2 separate regions of the Homo sapiens genome follow, and region 1 is linked to region 2. The links come from fine-mapping of genetic effects on gene expression. Tissue or cell type: whole blood. Region 2 holds a variant in brackets; the other region holds the start of a gene. Each region is shown on its reference strand, or each on the opposite one. Region 1 holds the start of TGFB1I1 (transforming growth factor beta 1 induced transcript 1). Region 2 holds the start of TENT5C (terminal nucleotidyltransferase 5C).

Region 1 (10,198 bases), not on the chromosome of region 2:
TCCCCATGTTGGCCAGGCTGGTCTCAAACTCCTGGCCTCAAGTGATTCACCCGCCCTGGCCTCCCACAGTGCCAGGATTACAGGCATGAACCACTGTAAGCGCTTATTTCAAGAATAAAGGGAAGGGCGGGCACAGTGGCTCACACCTGCAATCCCAGTACTTTGGGAGGCCAAGGCGGGAGGATCGCTCAAGACCAGGAGTTCGAGGTTGCAGTGAGCTATGGCACCACTGTACTCCAGCCTGGGCGACAAAGTGAGACCTCATCTCTTAGGACAAAACAAAACAAAACAAAATATAGAACTGAAGAAAGAGTAATGAGGGCGGGAATATTCGGTGGGGCCCCAGTTGGAGCTCTTGTCCTGGCTCTGCCACTATCTGTACAGTCCTGCGCGAGTCGCCACACTTTCCAGCCTCAGGCTCATCTGATACTTGAAGTAGGAAGTGCAGGAGTGGCTACCTGCAAGGGCTGAGGCTGCAGGTCCCGCTGCGGCCACAGGGCAGTGACCTAGAGACGGCCGGGGACAGAGCCAGCGCGGGGGTGGGGAGTCAGGGCCAAGCTCCTGCGCGCATTCAGAGACAGCACCAGGGAGAGGTGGAATGCGTGTGTTTATGTAGGTAGAAAAAGTGCACAGAACAGTGAGGGTGCAGGGAGCAAGGACGTCCTGGCCTGGCCTCCGATTCGCTGGAATTGCAAGGACCCTCCCCCAGTAAGGGGGCTCCCTCAAGGGTGGGAATAGAGTGGAGGCCCGCACGGGAGTTCTTGTCTGTGTGCAATCCACTTTGTGGGCGTGTGGGTTTAGGTCTGGCTGGGCCGTTTCTGAACTTGACCCCTGAGGACTCATAGTACCTTAGGGGCGGGGCTCTCCAGTGGGTGGGGCCTCCCGCTCTGAGAGCAAGGCCTCGGGGTCTGGAGGACCCGGCTTTTCCGGGAGGGCGCGGCCTCCGGGGGAGAGGGCGAGCCGAGCGGGCTGTCAGCCGAAGAGCTTCAGGAAGCAGGGCTGGCAGTAGGGCTTGCCGGCGCGCTCCTGGAAGGACCCCTTGGTGAGCGGGCGCAGGCAGAAGGTGCATGTGAAGTGGTCCGGGTGGAAGCGGCGACCCAGGGCCGACACGCAGCGGCCGGTCACAGGGAGGCCACACGTGGCGCACAGCGAGCCGCGTCGTGCGTGGAAGTGGTTCTCGCACAACGGGCGGCCCTCGTGCTCGAAAAAGCTGCCTCCCGAGAAGGGCGCGAAGCATTCCTGGGGAAGGGAAGCCGCGAAAGAGGACAGACAGGTCAGCGGCCACTGCCAGACAACGCGCGTTACTAGCGGATAACGCCCTGGGACCCCGCAGCCCGCCCTAGACGCGAAGAATCCCGTCCGGTGGGACCCTGCCCGGAAAACTCGCCCCACCCGAGGTTCCTAGCAGCACCTCCCGTGACCCGCCCCCCCGAGGGCCCGCCCCCTGCCCTGCACCCTTGACCCGCCCCTCCAAGGCCCCGCCCCACAGCCCTGTACCCTTGACCCGCCCCTCCAACGCCCCGCCCCGCAGCTCGCACCCTGCAGACGAAACAGTCCGGGTGCCAGAGCGCGCTGAGCGCCGAGATGTAGTTATCCAGGATGGGGCCCTGGCAGCCCTGGCAGCGCGGGGCGAACAGCTGCAGGAAGTCCCGGCGGCAGTAGGGGCGGCCCTCGCGCTCGTGGAAACCTAGGAGAGGGAACCGAGTGGGCTGAAAGCAAAGGGTGCGGGCGGGACGGGGGACCCACAAGACCTGAGATCTGGGGCCGAAGGAGGGGCAGTCCGAGGGAGCCTTGGGGAAGGAGGAGCCGGGTCTATGGCGGGACAGAGCGGGGAGGGCTCGGGTCCGGAGTCTGTGTAGGAGAGGGCAGGGCCAGAAGAGAGCAGAAGGAAAACCATGGCCCTGAGGACTCCGGAGGTCGGAGGGGCTGGGGCGAGACGTCGAGGGGACCCGCAGCTTTTAAGATGGGAGTCGAGTTCACTCTCACCCTCATCTCCGAAGGGCTCCCCGCAACTGACGCAGCAGAAATGCTCTGGGTGCCAGTGAGTGCCCAAGGCGGTCACCATCTTCTGCAGGGAGGGAGAGGGCACTCAGCGCGGCCTCCGTGCCTTCGCGCCTTCCTCTCCCGCGCGGAACCCGGGTGACTGGACTAAGGCATGCGTGGGGGGAGGGGGAGAAGATCTAACTAGGAACGTGGGGGTCAGAAAGGAAGAGTGGAGTCCAAGGGGCCGTGGACATTGCCAAGGGGAAGGGGTAGGGGTGGAGTGGGGTATCGCGGGTGGGGCGGGACCCATGCGGTGGAGGCCCGTCCCACAGCTCTCCTGGTGAGATAGGGCGGGCTCGGTGCGGCCGGGCGGGGCTCACGTGTCGGATGGGCTGGTTGCAGAAGCCACATCTTGGCGAGAAGCGCTCAAAGTAGCACTCGGGGCAGAAGGGGGCTCCATCCTTCTCGAAGAAGCTGCTGCCTCCCAGGGCGGTGGAACAGCCTCCGCAAACGAAGTGCTCGGGGTGCCAGGCGCGGCCCAGAGCCGTCACCACCTGCGAGTGGGAGGTGAGGCGGGTCAGAGCGGCTCTGACAACCACATGCCCAGTGAGGCAAGATTTACGCGGCGTTTTTCGAGTCCTCTCTGAGCGATCAGAATAAAGAATCCAGTGTTCGAGATCACGCAGCCTGTAAGCGATGGAGATCTAGCTCCCGTGTTCCGTCTTCCAGCTGCGCTCCAGGATTGACCTATACATGAGGCACAGCAGGCACAGCGCCTGGAGCCCACAATACATTTAGGGGCCCATAAAAACGTTTTAATTTTTTTAAAATCAAAATACGATCAGGCTGGGTGGCTCGTGCCTCTAATCCTAGCATTTGGGAGGCTGAGGTGGGAGGATTACTTGAGTCCAGGAGTTTGAGACCAGCCTGGGCAACATGGCGAAGCCCCATCTCTACAATAAATAAATAAAATTAGCTGGGCGAGGTGGCGGGCGCCTTTAGTCCCAGCTACTCGGGAGGCTGAGCTGGGAGGATCACTTGAGCCCAGAAGGTCGAGGCTGCAGTGAGCCACAATCGCACCACTGCACTCCAGCTTGGGTCACAAGAGTGAGAATTTGCCTCAAAATAAATAAGAGGGAGGAAGTGAAAAATCCGTTTTTAAAAATTCAGAATAAAAAAATGAACTAGAAGAAAATGCTGTAATACACAATAATAACATACCCATCTTTACACCAACACAGACATAAAAATCTATTTATTTTAATGGACGAAGGGACTCATGAAGATGAAAGTGCCTATGATCCACAAAAGTCACAATGCCACCCTCCTTTGCTGAGATGGGCAATTCTGGGCTGGGAGTCAGGTACTTGATCTAGCAGGGGGCACTAGGTTAACCCCTAGGCACAGCTGTTGTCAATCACATCTGCTCAGTCAATAAAACAAGGACCAGTGAACCCAGTCCAGACTCTGACGGAGGAAGAGAGAGCCTTTGTAGATGCCTGAGAGATATTGGGTGGAGCCACAGAGTGTTTTGTGAAGATCAGATGAGATGAGGGTTTGTAAAGGAGCTGGCACAGTGCCTGGCACACAGTAGGACCACAATAAATGGTAACATGGTTGGAATTTTCACCCTACCACTAACCTGCTGTGTGGTTCAGAGCTTCAGTTTCCTCATCCATAAAACATAAGTAATAATGATACCCACTTCCCAGATTAACTTACTAAAAGGGAACAGCATAAAGCCCAGCTCTCACTAAAGATGGGTCTGTGACAGGTCTCTGCCTCCCTTCTCACAAGGCTCCACTTACTTGCCCAGCAATAGGTTTATTGCAGGAGCCACAGAGGCCTTTGGCCTGGGTGGGAACACCCCGGCGGCTGAGGTCGGACTGCAGCAGCCCCAGCATGGTGTCTAGGCTGCCCTTGCCAGTCGGCTCTGGTGGGGATGGGGAGCCCTCATTTGTGGAGCTCACCACCGGTGGCTGAGTTGGCCCAGAGGCTGGAAGCTGCAGCGGGGAGGACATGAGAATTGAGTCAGCAAAGCAGCAGATGTGGAATTGTCTAGAAGGGGTTGGGGAGCCACAAATGGACACTGGCCCACTGCCCAACTCACATGGTTTTGAACGCGGAAGTCAGAGAGTGAGGCCATCAGTCTATCCAGCTCCAGAGTGGCTGAGGTGGCAGAAGCCTTTGGGAGGCCAGGAGACGGGCTGGAAGGGCTGTGAAGAACATGCTTGTGTCATCTCAGAGCCTCCCAGAGCAACGCTCCCTCTAGTGACTCAGATATCCAGGACTCATCTCTCAGCCCTGACAACGACGCCAAACTCACAGGCTGGGTCTTTTCTTATCTTCAGACTGGTCCTCCTTCTGCTCTCCTGAAGCCACCTTGCTAGATGGGAACTGAGACATGATTTCATCTGGAGAGAGGAGAGGAGGACGCTACATATAGGGCCATGCTCAACGCACCCTCACACTTGAGGCTTTAGGTCCCTTTAACTGCTACTCTGGGAAGTGTATTCCTCTTAGTCTCTGCCCCACCCTTCCCTCCCCTGCCCCTATCGCATCAAGGCCTCTCTCAGTCACCCTGGTACCTGTGATGTTGAACTGAGTGGCATTAAGTTCCTGAAGCAACCGATCTAGCTCACAGAGCCCGGTACCCAAGACACCGCTGGAAGAGGAGAATGGAGGGGCCGCCGGGGCTGCAGGCTTTGGGGACCGAGGCTTGCATACCGTGCTGGGAAGCAGAGTGGGAGCCTGGGTTCAGGGGTGGGGAATCCAAGCCTCCTCACCTGAGACTCAGTTGGCCCCCATGCCCTGGTTTCCAGGCCCCTCACCTGTACAGGTGGTCCTTGTCCCCCGAGGCTCCTGAAGACTCCCCAGACCCTGTCTACAGAGCGGAGACGCACAGGTGGGATGACAGGCCTGCACTCTGCCCCACTGAGGCTGAGATCCCCATAGACCAGGCCGAGCCTGGCCCTAGTGGCTGCCCCAGTCCCCAACATCCGATCTCACCTGTGGCTGGTGGCCATAGGATGGGGGAGGGGTGAGAGGCTCCGCAGGGCGCTCTTTGGGAGCCCCTGACCTTGGCATGTGCGAGGTGGTAGTCTCCAGGTCAGAGAGCAGGGCATCTGCAGGAAGAGGCCATCAGGGAGAGAGACAAGGGTCACGGTTAGATCAGAAGATAAGGTTCCCAGTGGGCAGTACTGGAGAAGGACAGAAGCCAGTATTAAGAGAAGAGGTCACAGGGCCAGAGCCAGGCAGAGCACTGCTCGAAGGGTAGCAAGGAATATTTATGACCAGAATATCCCAGTTGCTCACGCTTGGAGCCAAGCACAAACCCAGCCTCCTGATTATTTTATTCTCCCCATCTTCTCTGATGCAGTCAAAATGGGCTCTTCACCCAAGCCAAATTTGGCTCCCCTCCAAATTGCTCCATTGGCCCAGTGCCTGGCCCTCAGCTTTCTGATTGGACGCTCTCTCTTCCATGCTGGTTAACTCCTCCCTCTACCTACACAGGCCCCGCCCAGCCTGGCCACTCCCAGGCCCCTGAGTCCCGCCCTGGGCTCCTCACTGGCGCTTCGCTGGGACCTGCCTTCTGATTGGCTGTTTATCTGCGGTACAGCGTCAGTTACCCCTACCGAGCAGCGCCCTCTACCGCCAGGGGCCGGAAGCCCCTCTCTCCCGTGGAGCGCACAGCCTTCCAGCCCCAGGCTTCGCAGGGAGGACGAGATACCTGGGTCCCCCTTCCGGACAAGACACCTCTCTCCATCCCTGCATCCCCAGATCCGGGTCTTTTGAGCCCTTTCACTTCCAGAACCCAGAAGTCCTGCCCTCAGTCTTCGTCTCTGAGCACCCGCGTGAAACCCTGAAGCCTTCGCGGGCGCCTAGGCACTCCTGAGTTACTATTCTCTTCCTTGCCTCAAGGACCTGACCCTCACTGTGCTCAGGAGCCCTTAACTCCTCCTCTCCCAAAACTCTGGTGCAGGCAGGCCCGCTTTTTTTCTCCAAAACTTGATGCCAGACTTTCCCGTGCCCTCTACTTTCCCGGTCCCCGGGCCGAGGCCCCTTTAACCCCTCCCTCCCCAGAGCCCCGCGCCCGGGCGCCCGCGGGCGCCGCACCTCCCGTTCCATCTGCCGCAGCCTGGGATGGAGGAGCACAGCGAGGGAAGAAGGGAGGGAGCGGCCGGCCCAGGAAAGGCAGGAAGGGAGAGGCAGGAAGGGGGACGTGGAGTTGGAAAGGAGGCGCGGGCAGAGGCGAAAAGCAGAAGTAAGAAGACAGGGATGGGGAGATGCGGGAGAGCGACGGCGGGGAGGCAGCTCTGGGCAGCGGTGAGGGGCCACGGACCCGGGGATCCGGCCCCACTCACCCAGGTCCTCCATGGCGGGGCGCGGGCCGGTGGCGCGGGGCGAACAGGGCGGGGGCCGTGTCCGGTGGGGGCGGGGGGCGGGGGACGTCCGGGAGCTGGAAGCCCGGCCGTGACCATGTAAGGAAGCCGGGACCCGCTGAGATGGGGATGGGGGGGCGATGAACGGGGGAACCCGAGGTGGGGGCGTGGAAAGGAGGGAGCGCCCCGGCCCACCCGAGCCCAGCCCGCCGGCCTGCCGCGGAGGCGGCCACACCCCAGCCTTGGCCTCAGCTGCAGGGAGCCCCAGGAGGCCAGAGCCAGAGAGAAGTGGCTTCTCCAGACCAAGCCCCAGAGCCGCTCCCTAGGGAGACTTACAGACACGGACTGAGGCCCCCAAACAGACACCGCTCAAAGCTAGCGCCTGAGTCCTAGACAAGAGCCTCCCTCCCACCCATGCCATTCCTGGGAGACTTGTCCCAGACGGAATTTTTGGATTGGTAGCAGGAGTGATATTCTAAGGCTCAATTAGACCTCAGGTTCGGAGACCCTCCCATCGGAGACCCTGACAGATAAATAGAGGCCCCAAGAGGCATACATACCAGACACAAAGAAATCTGAGGGACGGGGACAGACACAGTGAACCCACCCACAGACTCTACACTAGGACCTTCCCTCCAAGACTTGGTCATGGACACACGTAAACTCGAACCCGGGCGCAAGCCCCTTGCAAATTCGGGGAAAACACTCCCAGGCAACCAACCCCCAGCCAGCCTGCAAGACAAAGCCCTTCCTCAGCACTGAGGTGGCCCAGGCCTGCTCTGAAACAGCCCTTTCCCAAGTTACTGATGAACTCAGAGCAGAAAGCAAGACACAGTCTCCAGCCACAAAGTGGCAAGGCCTTCCCTGGACTGAGACCCTGAGAAACGAGGTGGAAACGAGAGGCCATAGAGGTAGTTATGGACAGACAACTGTGCTGCAGCCACTCTTCTGGACAGATCTGAGCACTGGAATGTGAGTATCAACCCAGCAGCAAATCGGAACAACCTGGGGAGCTTTTTAAAAATGCGAGACAGGCATGGTGGCTCACACCTATAATCCTAGCACTTTGGGAGGTCAAGGCGGGCAGGTCACTTGAGGTCAGGAGTTCGAGACCAGCCTGGCCAACATGACAAAACCCCATCTCTACTAAAAACACAAAATTAGCTGTGCGTGGTGGTGGGAGCCTGTAATTCCAGCTACTTGGGAGGCTGAGACAGGAGAATTGCTTGAAACCTGGAGGCAGAGGCTGCAGTGAGCTGAGATTGTGCCACTGAACTCCTGAGCAACAGAGGAGACCCTGTGTCAAGAATAAAAAAGAAAAAGAAGAAAAAATGGGCAAACGACCTGAATAGACAGTTCAAAGAAGTTATATAAATAGCCAATGATTACATGAAAAGATCCTCAACATCATTAGTCCCCAGAGAAATGCAAATCAAAACTACAATGAGATGCCACATCATACCTATTAGGATGGCAATAACAAAAAAGACAGGTAATTAGGCAAGGAGCAGTGGCTCACACCTGTAATCCTAACACTTTGGAAGGCCGAGGTGGGTGGATCCCCTGAGGTCAGGAGTTCGAGACCAGCCTGGCTAACATGGTGAAAACAGTCTCTACTAAAAACACACAAAAAAATTAGCCAGACATGGTGGTGGGCACCTGTAGTCCCAGCTACTTGGGAGGCTGAGGCGGAAGAATCCCTTGAACCTGGCAGGTGGAGGCTGCAGTGAGCTGAGATCGTGCCACTGCACTCCAGCCTGAGCAACAGAGCGAGACTCCATCTCAAATAATAATGATAATATTTTAAAGGCCAGGCTCAGTGGTTCACGCCTGTAATCCCAACACTCTGGGAGGCCGAGGCGGGCGGATCACCTGAGGTCTGGAGTTGGAGACCAGCCTGGTTAACTTGGCAAAACCCCGTCTCTACTAAAAATACAAAAATTAGCTGGGTGTGGTGGCAGGCACCTGTAATCCCAGCTACTCGGGAGGCTGAGGCAGGAGAATCACTTGAACTCGGGAGGCAGAGGTTGCAGTGAGCAGAGATTGTGCCACTGCACTCCAGCCTGGTGACAGAGTGAGATTCCGACTCAAAAAAAAAAAAAAAAAAAGCTGAAAAGAAAGAGGTAATTAGCAAGTTTTTGTGAGGATATGGAGAGATTGGAACCCTCACACATGGCTGGTTGGAATGTAAAATCGTTCACTAACTTTGGAAAATGGTCTGGCAGTTCCTCACATGTTTAAACATAGAGTTATATGATCCAGCAATTTCCCTTCTAGATATGTAACCAAGAGAAATAAAAGCATATTCCACAAAAAAACTTGTACATGAGTATTCATAGCAGCATTATTCATAATAGCCCGAGTGGAAACAACCCAAATGTCCGTCAACTGATGATTGAAGAAATGAAAGTGGCATATCCATGTCTTAGTCTGTTTTGTGCTGCATCGTAGAATGCCTAAGGCTGGATAATTTATAAAGAATAGAAATATCTTTCTTTCAGTTCTAGAGGTTGGGAAGTCGAAGGTCAAGGGCCCTGCATCTGGTGAGGGCCTTCTTTCTGCCTCATCCCACAGCAGAAAGCAGAAGGGCAAGACAGTGCAAGAGAGGGGGTGGGGTGGGGGCAGAACCCATCCATTTATCTATCAGCTGTCCACTCCCTTGATAACTAACCTACTCATGCAATAATGCCATTAATCCATTCATGAGGGAAGAGCCCACATAACCTAATCACTTCTTAAAGTTCCCACCTCTCAACAGTTGAATTGGGGGTTAAGTTTCCAACACATGAACTCTGGGGTACATGTTCAAACCACAGCAATCCATAAAGTGAAACTGTATTATTCCTAATAAAAAGAAATGAGATGCTACAGTGTGGATGAACCTTGATAACATTAAGCTATATGAAAGAGGCCAGATATGAAAGATCACACATTGTATGATTCCATTTATATGACATGTCCAGAATAGGTCATCTGTAGAGATACGATGTAGATTAGTGATTGCCTAGGGTTGGGGGAAAGGGAGTGTTATGGACTGAATGTTTGTGTCTCCCCCACATTTATACATCACAGTTCAACCCTCAGTGTGACTATATTTGAAGATAGGGCCTGACTGGGCGCGGTGGCTCACGCCTGTAATCCCAGCACTTTGGGAGGCCAAGGCAGACAGATCACCTGAGGTCAGGAGTTCGAGACCAGGCTGGCCAACATGGTGAAACCCCATTTCTACTAAAAATACAAAAAAAGTTAGCCGGGCATGGTGGCACCTGTAATCCCAGCTACTTGGGAGGCTGAGGCATGAGAATTGCTTGAACCAGAGAGGCGGAGGCTGCAATGAGTCAATATTGTACCACCACACTCCAGCCTGGGTGACAGAACAAGATTCCAAAAAATAAAATAAAATAAAATAAAATACCGATGCCCAGTCCAATGTGAGCAAAAAGACCCCAGGCATCAATAGTTTTTCAAAGCTCACTGCTTGGTTCTAATGCATAGCCTGAAAACCAGAGACCTGGACCAACACTCACAGAGGCTCAGAGACAGCAAGTGCCAACCTCAGCTGCCCAGAAGCAAACCTTGGCAGGCCCAGTGCAGCTCTCCCCAAAATCAGGCTGCCACTGAGGAGTCAAAAATCTGCAAGCCAATTATTAAACAGTAAAAGAGCAACAGATGTTGGCATGAATGTGGAGAAAGAGGAATACTTATACACTGTTGGTGGGAATGTAAATTAGCTCAACCTCTCTGGAAAACAGCATAGAGATTTCTCAAAGACCTACAACTAGAACTATCATTTGACTCAGAAATCCCACTAACGAGCATCTACCCACAGGAAA
Region 2 (10,198 bases):
ACCGTGAGACCTAGTCTTTCCATTGCCCCGTCCCCACCATACACACCAAAGATAGCAAAAAGCTGGAATCAGCCTTTACTCTCTGCTTTTGTGCAGATTCCAGTTAAGCAAAAGATGCCAGGTGGCTTAGAGGTGCCCCCTGCCACAGAGACACCAAGGAAGACAATATATTGCCATAGTGTGTGGGAAATCCCACTTATCAGCGGGGGAGCACATTGTTTCATAACATAAACGTCTGCTTCTGCCCACATCCTTTTCTCTGGCAGGTGCTAATACATGCAGAGCCCTCCAAGGGCTCTTCACATGGCGGCAGCCACAGCCATGGCCAGGGGACACCACATGTGACTAGATGTTTAGCCAGGTACCCTAATGAGCCACCAACTCTTTTACAACATCACAAATAGGCAGTAAAACAGTGCTTTCAGGGCTCTACCTGGATCAATCATTTGATTTCTATAACAACCCATAAAAGAGATACCATTCCTCCTACTCCCCCACTTACAGATGGGAAAACTGGAGAACAAAGAGGATGTGCAAATTGTAAACTGTCCAAGGATGCACTGCTGGTGAGTAGCAGAAATGGAATTTAAGAGTCTTCCTAAAAGGTGGATAGCTTTGGTGGGGCAGGGAGCTTGAAGAAGAGCTGGTTGTGCTTAGATGGTCAGAGGAAGGAGATGACAGTAAGTAGAAAGAAAAGGAAGGAAGGTATAAAGATTTTTAAAAAATAAGATGGTAGGAAAGAAGTTTGGCTAGACCGCTAAGGCCACCTGAGTGAGGTAAGGCCAGATGGCAAATTCTGAAAGCAAGGGAGAAGCATTTAGAACTGAAGTATCTAACAACTGTCAGCATAGAAACTGCAGGCTGGAGCCACCAGAACTGAATGTGATTAAGTGTAGAAATGCTAATCGTTATGCTACTGTTTGTTTTAAAGGAACAATGGCTGGGAGATGAAGGCCTAGGATCCTAACTTCCCAGGGAGCTCCAAGATGCTTGCTACGTTGCAGAACAGTGGTGATTTTAGAGAAACCAAGTCCAGAAGAGAGAGAGAACCCAAGAGTGGAAGGTGCTGCACAGTCGCCTTGCTGAACTAGTAATAAGAGGAAAAATTAATGGCACAGGAGGGAGATTATCAGGAATGGGCTGATCCTGATCCAGAAAACTAAGGCATGCTGCTTTGCTCATGGAATAAAGGAACAATTACTGAGACTCCTCTGATGGCTGGGAGATCAGAGTGTTGATAGGCTGATGAAGCAACAGAACAGGACACTAGCTACAGTCGAGACGGCAACCTTCTCAGATCAAAGAAGCCAATAACCCAACTGGAGCTACAGAGAAATGGCTGATAAATTTGCAGGCAGTGACCAGGACTTAAAGGGCCAGCCCAGGAAGGAGAGCTGGAACAAAACTGAAAGCAGAAAGTCTGGAACGTACACAGGACCTCATGAATGCTGAACCTGAGACTGGACACCGTCACTTCCCCCACCTGCATGTAGTTTGACCCTTGAGATTCTTTCACCCATAAGAAAAGAGCCAGGCGCTTCGAATGACCATGGACCTTGGTCATTTTGCTTGGCATGTGCAGCAGCAGATAACCGGGCAGAAACGAGAAAAACCAGGGTCAACATGGATATGGCCTTCTGAAAAAAATCCTCCTCTCTTACTCCTTGAATTCCTTGGGGGATGAAGGCCAGAAGTTATCTAGGAAGGGTTTGGAGGCAGTCTAAGGAAGGCTTTTGTCTGCCAGCTCCTCCCTAGGGCCAGACCCCCCACATAGGGAGGGGGCCACATTCTGGAGACTCCTCCACAGCCCCAAACACATGAAAGTTACAGATAACAGACACTCGAGTGTTTCATGTACATGGAATAGCAGCTTAGATTATGAATGGCCTGAAGCAATAAAAACAGATAAAATAATGCTTTACTTTTTAAAAGGCCAATAAAATATATCCTATGCTCACTATTTTTCCAAGATGTTATTTTTACAGTTGCCCACTTAAATGCCCGCAACACATTCTACCTGAGTTCAAAGAAGTAACTGCCCCAGGCCACAAAGCTGTGCCCAGAGAAAACATTTCTAAGTCAGTGACGCAACAAACCCCACAGTTGGTCTTTTCTCACTCTCAGCTCCATTGCATTCAGCCAGCGTCTCATTCTATTTTCTTAAGGTTATTATCATCCTCCAGCCATTTACCAATGATGTTTACTAGAGTCAAAAAATGTGGTTAGATTCCCACATGAGCTGTGGAAAGCAGCCCTGGACTGAAACCCAGGCAGGCCACAGAACCAGGCTGTGATCTCCGCTGTTTAAGGGGCCTCCATGAATTCTCACTTCCCACTAAGAAGTGAGAAGCCAACACACAGTCTGAATGGTTATCACTGGGCTCCATCCATAGACACCCACCAACGACAACTCCAAACAGAAAGCTCTTTCCCACCTTTGAAAATAGGATGCTTGGGCAAGTGTGGGTGGAGAGATAACGCTGGAAGAACTAATGCTGTGGCCGCAAAACAGCAAACAGAATCAAAACACTGGCCTAGATATTACAGCAGGGATGCCACACAAGTTCAAGTGTTGAAAGGTATACTCTGACGTGGTTGCAAATGGAAATATTAACAAGGTCAGGACACAGACATCTTCAGATGGAAGCAGGGCATAAAAGCCTTGATTTTTTTCCAAGGTGTCAGCATTAAGTGCTACACACACAACTTGAAATGGAAATAATCCTTGTTGCTACTTGGTAACCACCTTCCCACCATCAACTGCTTCTTTCTAGATCAGAGGTGTTACTGGTCTGAATTCATTTAAAGAGCTCCCCAAAGAGAGCCTGCCTTTCTGTTTTAGAGATTGCCCAGACTGAGAAAAATGAGATGATTCCTAAGGAGGAGACTGCTTACTGTAAGAATGACTCAGCTTACACGTAATCCACAGGGTTTAAGAGCTGACAGCCTCCGGGTTTCATCAAAGGCTGCTTCCACAGGCTACTTTACCATCTAACTCTCCAGCCTACAGCTTTAAACAGTTGTCCAAAAGGAAGACCTCAGTCAGCTAAAAGTCCTGTCTAATCACTAGCAGCTTCCCTGCCCAGGCCTTATCAGGAAAGGGACAAGCAACTCTTAGTTCCTCAAATGCCACCCTTATCATACGTTAGACCATAAACACACCCCATTCACAAGTGTCTAAGTGTGAGCTGACCTCCATTTCAGAGCAGATGCTAATTACGTGCATAGTTCCATCCAGGTTTTTGTTTTGCATGGATCCTTCCCTTAGGAGTTGGCATTCAAGTTGCAGGTTCCGGGCCTCCAGGTACTGCGCATAGCAGCAGCTCATGTTTAGCGTTCATCAAGTAATTAATGTGCTGTCACCAGACAGCTCAAACACTTTGACTTGACTTGAATGTTACTTCCTCTTGCAATTTCACTCAAATTTTAATTGTTGATAAAACTTAATTGTTGATAAACTGAGTCCTGGTCCCCTGCCAGTCTCAGAAGATTTTATCAGCAGTTCCTTGAAATTCTATTGCCTTATGATTATTCTCTAAGAAACTATAAAAAAAAAAAAAAAGAATGAGCACCGGGCTAGGAATCCAACACCATGTGTTTTAGTGTCAAGTCTGACGCACAGTGTGAATGACTGTCAGTAAGTTGGCCATAACTGACTTTCCTTTCACTCTTTCAAAAATGTGCATGCCTACTATGTTTCAAGCACTGCTCCAGGAGCTTGTGATGCACTGGGAAGAAAGAGACAAAGATCCCTGGCCCTGTGGAGCTGATATCCTGCTTCCTACTCTCCTTCCATAACTTTGGGTTGTTAAATCTTGCCTCCCACACATGCAGAATCAGAACTTGAGAGTGAAACATTTTTGCTGATGGTCTAGACTTGTGCTGCCCAATACAGTAGGTACCGCTGTAAATGCTAAAACACATACTGGATATCAAGGTCTCAGTATGATAAAAGGAATGTAAACTATCTCATTTAGATTTTTTATATTGATTACATACTGAAATGATGAAATTTGATATGGTAGATTAAATACACTTATTAAAATGAATTTCACTTTTTTTTGATACAGGGTCTCACCCTATTGCCAAGGCTGCAGTGCCGTGGTTCGATGGCAGCTCACTGCAGCCTTGACTTCCTGGGCTCAAGCAATTCTCCTGCCTCAGCCTCCTGAGTAGCTGGTACCACAGGCACGTGCCACCACACCCAGCTAATTTTTTAAAAAATTGTTTTTATATAGATGGGGTCTTGCTGTGTCATACAGGCTGGTCTGGAACTCCTGGACTCAAGGGATCCTCCTGCCTCAGCCTCCCAAAGTCCTGAGGTTACAGCTGTGAGTCACTGCCCCTGGCCAAATTTCACCTACTTCTACTCTTTAATGGGACTACTAGGAAGTTAATCGTGTCTCTCATATTTTTACTGGAAAGCACTGATCTAATTTATTGTCCTTATTATAATGAAGAAGCTGAAGGCTGAAGAGGTAAAGGCTCTGCCAGGACCAGAGCCCAGGTCTCCCCACAGCTAAAGTCAGCCTCAGAAGCAGAGGAGGTAAAAAG[A/C]TGACAAACAGCCTGGGCACAGGAGATAGCAGCGGTGCTAGCTCTAGCTGAGCAGCTGTGAGCAAGCCTCTAGACACATATCAGGCACTTGATGAGTGTACGCGTCATCTCTGCTTCTGGATCAGTCCTCTTTCTGCTACTGCTGTGCTGCAGTTATTCCACAGGAATGACGATTGAAACTGCCCAAGTCCATATAGCACTGGCTAGCTGTGGAGATCCTAATGCCCATCTCTAACTACGACGAGCAGAGGGCAACGATGGACAGAGTGTGTTTGGGGATCAGGGGCAAGCAGCCAGGAAAGGTGGAGGGTTACCTCTTCTATCTTCATAAGGGCTAAACAAGTTGAGAGATGCTTACGGCAACGGAAGAGGGTGTGGGCAGTTGCAGTTTCATGGATAATTTTCTTCTCAAAATGTTTTTATAGGAGGCTAAGTATGGTAACAGTATGGGACTTTGTGCTTATTCAATCAAAGATAAAAATTTAAGAACTAGAAAAGAAGGTAGAAGGAAGAACTGTAAGAAAGTATTGGCCGGGCATGGTGGCTCACACCTGTAATCCCAGCATTTTGAGAGGCTGAGGCAGGCAGATCACGAGGTCAAGAGACCAAGACCATCATGGCCAACATGGTGAAACCCCATCTCTACTAAAAATACAAAAAATTAGCTGGGTGTGGTGGTGTGCACCTGTAGTCCCAGCTATTCAGGAGGCTGAGGTAGGAGGATCGCTTGAACCCACGAGGTGGAGGTTGCAGTGAGCAGAGATCGTGCTACTGCACTCCAGCCTGGCGACAGAGTAAGACTCCGTCTCAAAAGAACAAACAACAACAAAGTATTAATGAATCGAGGTGTGAAAAGAGCGGGTCCCCAGATGGAATAATGTCAGTCAGAAGCCTGTGGGAAGGGCCTGAAGCTGGATTCAAAGTTTGGTGAGAAAGGAGTATCATTCCTTTGTGCAGATATGAGTATCTGTTCTGTGAGGCAAAGAAGGGCAGTTAGGGAGACTCTGCCATGGGGGGTGGAGGGTGGGTCAAGAGTAAAGAGTCAGAAAGGCACGGTCTTGAAGAGGAGGTTCAGCTTCCAGAGGTGCAGGCAGTCCCTGTGCGCTTGGATGGAGTTCCAAATGCACAGACTGTAGAACTAGCCAGAGGCAGGGGAGGCGGACTCACTTACTGCCCTCATCAAGTTCCTGTCTACGGGCCCCTAAACCAGGTCAGTGATGACAGTGGGAAACAATAAAAAAGAGAAAGAATCAGCAGAACTAGCAACTGAGTGAACAGAGAGAGAGAAAAGGCTGAGTGAGCCATGTGAGGCTGGTGTCAGGGAGGGTGGGAAGGATGGCAAGTGCTTAAGGGAGTGGGTCTGGAGCTCAGCTTGAGGAGTTTCAGCTGTTGGTCAATTAGCTAGTCACTGCCCCTCAGCTCCAAACCTATACCCCTGTGGCCTCTACTTAAAAGAGGACTCAGCCATTGGCCTGCCTGCCTCGGTCCACCAAGAGAACTCCCACTTCAAGTACGCCTCCCTCTTTGCAAGCCGCCAACCGAACATGTATCCAAATGACAGAACACCTTCTGTGTGCCAGGCCAGCTCTATAAGCAGGCACTGGGGAGTCAGCAGTGAGCACAGATTCCGCTTTCCGGCGCTCATATGCCAGTGGCTGAGACTAATGAGAGAAATCGGAGTGCCTCGACTGCATGATAAAGCCAGCCCAGCTCCTCTCGCATCCAGAGCTCTTCCAAAGGCATTTCCAAACACCACTGCCTTGGCGTCCTCAGCACCTGGCACTAGCTACTGCCTAGGAAGCACTTAACTACTTACTGACTCAATCACGGTTCTCCAAGAAATAAACAACACTCCATGCAGTTTTGTGACCAAGACTCCAAGACTTTAGTCTCAAGCTCCGACACTAAAAAACATCCTACAGGGAGAGAGTTGCTTAACATCAGCAATTATTTTTTCATATTTTTTTTCTGTTGTTCCAAGAAGTTTTCAAACAGTTCTAGAACAGACTGTGGGGGCCAGCTGTACAAAATCTATTAATTCTGAACAATTCTTAAGGCTTCCTTACCTAGTTGAACTATATAAAGATGCTTCCTCTAAACTATTTGAATTCCAAATGCAAGCCTCTTTATGCGGCCTGCAATGAAAGCGTAAAAACGTTTTGAGAGATCTTATGGCCTGAAAACATCACAAGAAATCAGCAGTACTAATGTACCCAAGCAGCTTTAAACACATGAACATTTCTTTAAACACAGAGGTGTCTGCTTCATTGTAATACAATTTATGCCATTTTAATGTACTATAGTCAAAACACCAAGATGGCAGGAAGCATTTTCCTACAGTGCCTTGTTTACCTCAATGACAACACAAAAAGCAACAGACCTTATCTAACCCAAGTAATGTTTTATTCCAAGTAACCTCACATTCCACATTACTCCTTAACTCCTAAACACACACACATGCACACAAAATAGCAGATACACCCAGAGACAGGTGTGAAACCAAGAAACCCCAAAACATAAGTTTAGCTTAACTCATGAAACTAGTTTTGGGCTTCCACGACTTCTCTCAGTAATGCAAAAAAAAAAAAAAAAGGTTCAACTCATCCACTGAGAGCCTTTGGGTTTCCATTTCTTTAGTAGGTAACTCCATGAACACAACATTGATCAGAGACAAAAGATGAAGACAAGGTCCTATGTACTTGAGCAGTAAAAACAACAAAAAAAGTTTTTTAAATGAAGTTTTTAAATTTTCTATCAAATGTGTCTGGTTAATGGTACTGTGAAAACAAGAGCACTACAGCCCACTTTTAAGTTATTTTTACTGCTGCACTGTTCCTTGGACTTTCAGAAATATGAGGAATTCTGTTCTCTGACCGGCAGCGCAAGATGTGCATGATCTGCCCTGGCCTTGAACACGGGGGAATGTGGGCTGAATGTGTGCACTATGGGGAGATACAGCTGAGGGGGGACGGGCCTCTGGAACTCGGGAGATTTCAGTGGCTACTTGTGCTCACGGTACAAGAGAAGAAACCAGGTAGAGATAGCCACAGGTGCACAACTAAGTCATGCTCACTCTGACAAGCAGGCTAAGAGCCAAATCCTTTCCTTCAGAATTACATGAATTTAATCCCTGGATACAAGGTAGGTATTGTGGAAAAAACAGCGTAAGAAATATGGCTGTTAATTCTATGTGCTCACTGAAGCTGCTTATGAAATTAGGGATCTTTGTTTTGGTAACAATTTAGAGGCCTCCTGGCAGAGTTTTTTTTTTTTTTTAAACTTTGTTATGGGAGCCCCCTACCCCCGCATAGCTACCTGAACAATTATATACAATATACCAAAATCTTCCTAAAAACTCTTTATTGAGAATATATGTACTCTAAAGCTATGGGTATACCTTAAGAGAAAAAGTTCATTATCTGAAATAAACTAAGCTTGACTCCAGAGATCATTTTCCATCTTCACAAACAAGAATGTCAAAGGACAGAACCCCTGCAGCCCAGCTCAGAGGTTTCCCTAAAAGCCCAGAGAAAAGTCAGCATTCTTTACTCCCCATCCCCCTCCCCCTTTTCCACTGCAGGGCCTAACGTGGCTGGTCTCACACCCTCAATAATACCCTTGGGGATTTAAGACAGTAAAATTCTGGGTAAGCTCTCCTACCACTCTTGCGGCTGCCCAACTTACTTCCTGGGCTCATTTCCTTGCCAATTTACTCACGTTGAAAGGTTGCTGTCGCCAACAACGGTCACCCTCTTTCCTGCACGCAGAGGGCAGCTGAGCCAGCCAGAAGTGTACTTTGGGAGGATCTAATCACCCTAACTTTATTTCCTGGGCTGGTTCAGTCTCCTAACCCACCTACAAAGTAACCTGAAGACCAAGTTGTCACAATACAAATAATTATGCACATAGTATTTATAAAAGCTTTCTTACTATAAGTGCATTTTAAGCACTTCATTTGTATGCACTTTATATCTCCGTAAGAAAGCAAAAATGTTAAAAAGGAAGCAGGCCCCTACTTAATTAAGCCAGGGAACTGGTTAGAGCCCTACAAAAGCCTACCTATGGACAAAAAAGGGCGAAGGGGAAGGGAGCTGACACTATCCCTCCCGCAGGGTCCAGCCCTAATAGTGGGTTCTCCAGAAGCTCGCCAGGCATTCATTTCTCCAGGGGAGCGCCCTTACTTGGAGGTAGCGCTGCTTGGTTTTCTCGCCCGCCAGCGTTGAGTTCAGGTGTGCAGGCTACCAACCTGTATTCTTCAGGTAAGTCACCCTCCTCTGACTCGCCTCCCACCCTGCTCCCTCCTGCCTCGCGACCAGTGCGAAGGGAGTCCCCGAACTGCGACACCTCCCGGGGCAGCCGCACCGGTATCCGTCCGAGTCGACCCACTTGCCGTGGCTTTTCACCTACGCAGTAAAGCAAGTTTCATTTTCAAAAGGAGAGGAAGCAGGTTTCACAGACACCGCATTCCCAAGAAGTTTCTGAGAGACGCGCAGCGCACAAGTCACTGGCTTGGATCCCTTTGCTGCTCATGGTGTCCACAGTCTGATGTGAGCGCATTAAATTTAAGGATCTCCGCCCTTCTCCTTAAAACTCAGGACTTGGCAATGAGCCTAGGAAGCGCCCCTCCCCTCCCCAACCAGATCCAAGCCCCGGACCGCTGCGTCTCCAGCTGCGCCTAGTGAAACCGCCGAATTCGAATTCACACTCGGCGGGCCGGCGAAGGTGTGCGCGCCCGCGGGAGCGCCGGGGCGAGCCCGAGGGACTGCAAGCCAGGAAGGGAGGCATGGGTGGCGGGGGGCGCCGTCTGATCCAGGTAGGAGCGGAGGCGCCGATCACACACTCTTCAGACGCCCTGCCCGCGCCTGGCCAGCGCGCAGCCTGCAGGACGCGCGGAGCAGGAACTCGCTGGAGTTTGCCAAGCCCCAGGTCTCTGGAAAGTTGTAGCTCCCTTTCGGAGCGTCTCTTCTGGCCCTTTGGGACGGGTGTGTCAGGGGCGGGGGTCCTCGAGGGAGCAGGAGGGGAAAGGAGCACCGGGTCTCGGCACCTGTCCGCAGCTCCCCTCGGGTCCGCCTGCCCCCTACCAGGCTGGGCAAAGACCTGAGCACCACTTAGTGGGGGCGGACCCCCACTAAGTGAGCTCGCGGCTCCCTGGGGCTGCTGCCGCATCGCCGCACCTTTAGAGGAGGGGGGTCGCGGACTCACCTGGGCAATAGAAGAGGAGGCGACAGAGGCAGGTCCTTGGCGTGGGCAGGCCCCAGCAGGAGCGGCGCGACCTCTACAGCCCCTAGGCAGCGGCACCGAGTGAGCCGTCCCGCCGCCGCCCCCTCCGTTCTTATACGGCGGGACCACGCCCCCGTCCCCGCCCCTGAGCCGCCCTCCCGGGGGAGCCAGGGGCGGGGCGTGGCGGAGCCAGTCCCCTCGGGACCCTTCCGCCCGGCCCTGACGGCAGGGGCGGGGCGAGGGCTGCCCTCTGATTGGCTCTTCGGGTGAATGGTTGCCAAGAGACGAGTAAATCCTCAGCGGCGGGAAGGGGCGGGGTGCTCAGGGAGGCAGCACTGCGCAAGCGCAATAGAGGGGGCTGCGTCGACACCCACTTAACTTCGGAGTTAGTGGGACACCTTTCTTTTTGCTTAGTACGCTTTTC

What was found. PIP is the estimated chance that this variant, and not a neighbour inherited with it, causes the effect.
Region 1: TGFB1I1 starts here. The variant in region 2 is fine-mapped to the expression of TGFB1I1 in whole blood (TOPMed, PIP 0.94).

What each region holds. Positions count from the first base shown.
Region 1 is chr16:31,468,351-31,478,548 of GRCh38, reverse strand. TGFB1I1 (transforming growth factor beta 1 induced transcript 1) reads right to left here and starts at 6,397. Exons shown (of 11, transcript NM_001042454.3): 1 at 6,348-6,397; 2 at 4,993-5,108; 3 at 4,815-4,867; 4 at 4,572-4,714; 5 at 4,310-4,397; 6 at 4,094-4,199; 7 at 3,792-3,986; 8 at 2,364-2,537; 9 at 1,987-2,068; 10 at 1,539-1,687; 11 at 591-1,239. The coding sequence starts at 6,360. The coding sequence ends at 973. RefSeq lists a silencer at 1,423-1,512 and enhancers at 806-1,538, 1,539-2,270, 2,271-3,003, 5,518-6,058.
Region 2 is chr1:117,605,712-117,615,909 of GRCh38, reverse strand. TENT5C (terminal nucleotidyltransferase 5C) reads right to left here and starts at 9,862. Exons shown (of 2, transcript NM_017709.4): 1 at 9,757-9,862. It overlaps TENT5C-DT (TENT5C divergent transcript), which reads left to right and starts at 10,140. Exons shown (of 3, transcript NR_121626.1): 1 at 10,140-10,198. RefSeq lists a silencer at 9,797-10,136 and an enhancer at 10,047-10,198. The variant A/C (reference allele first, on the strand shown) is at 4,555.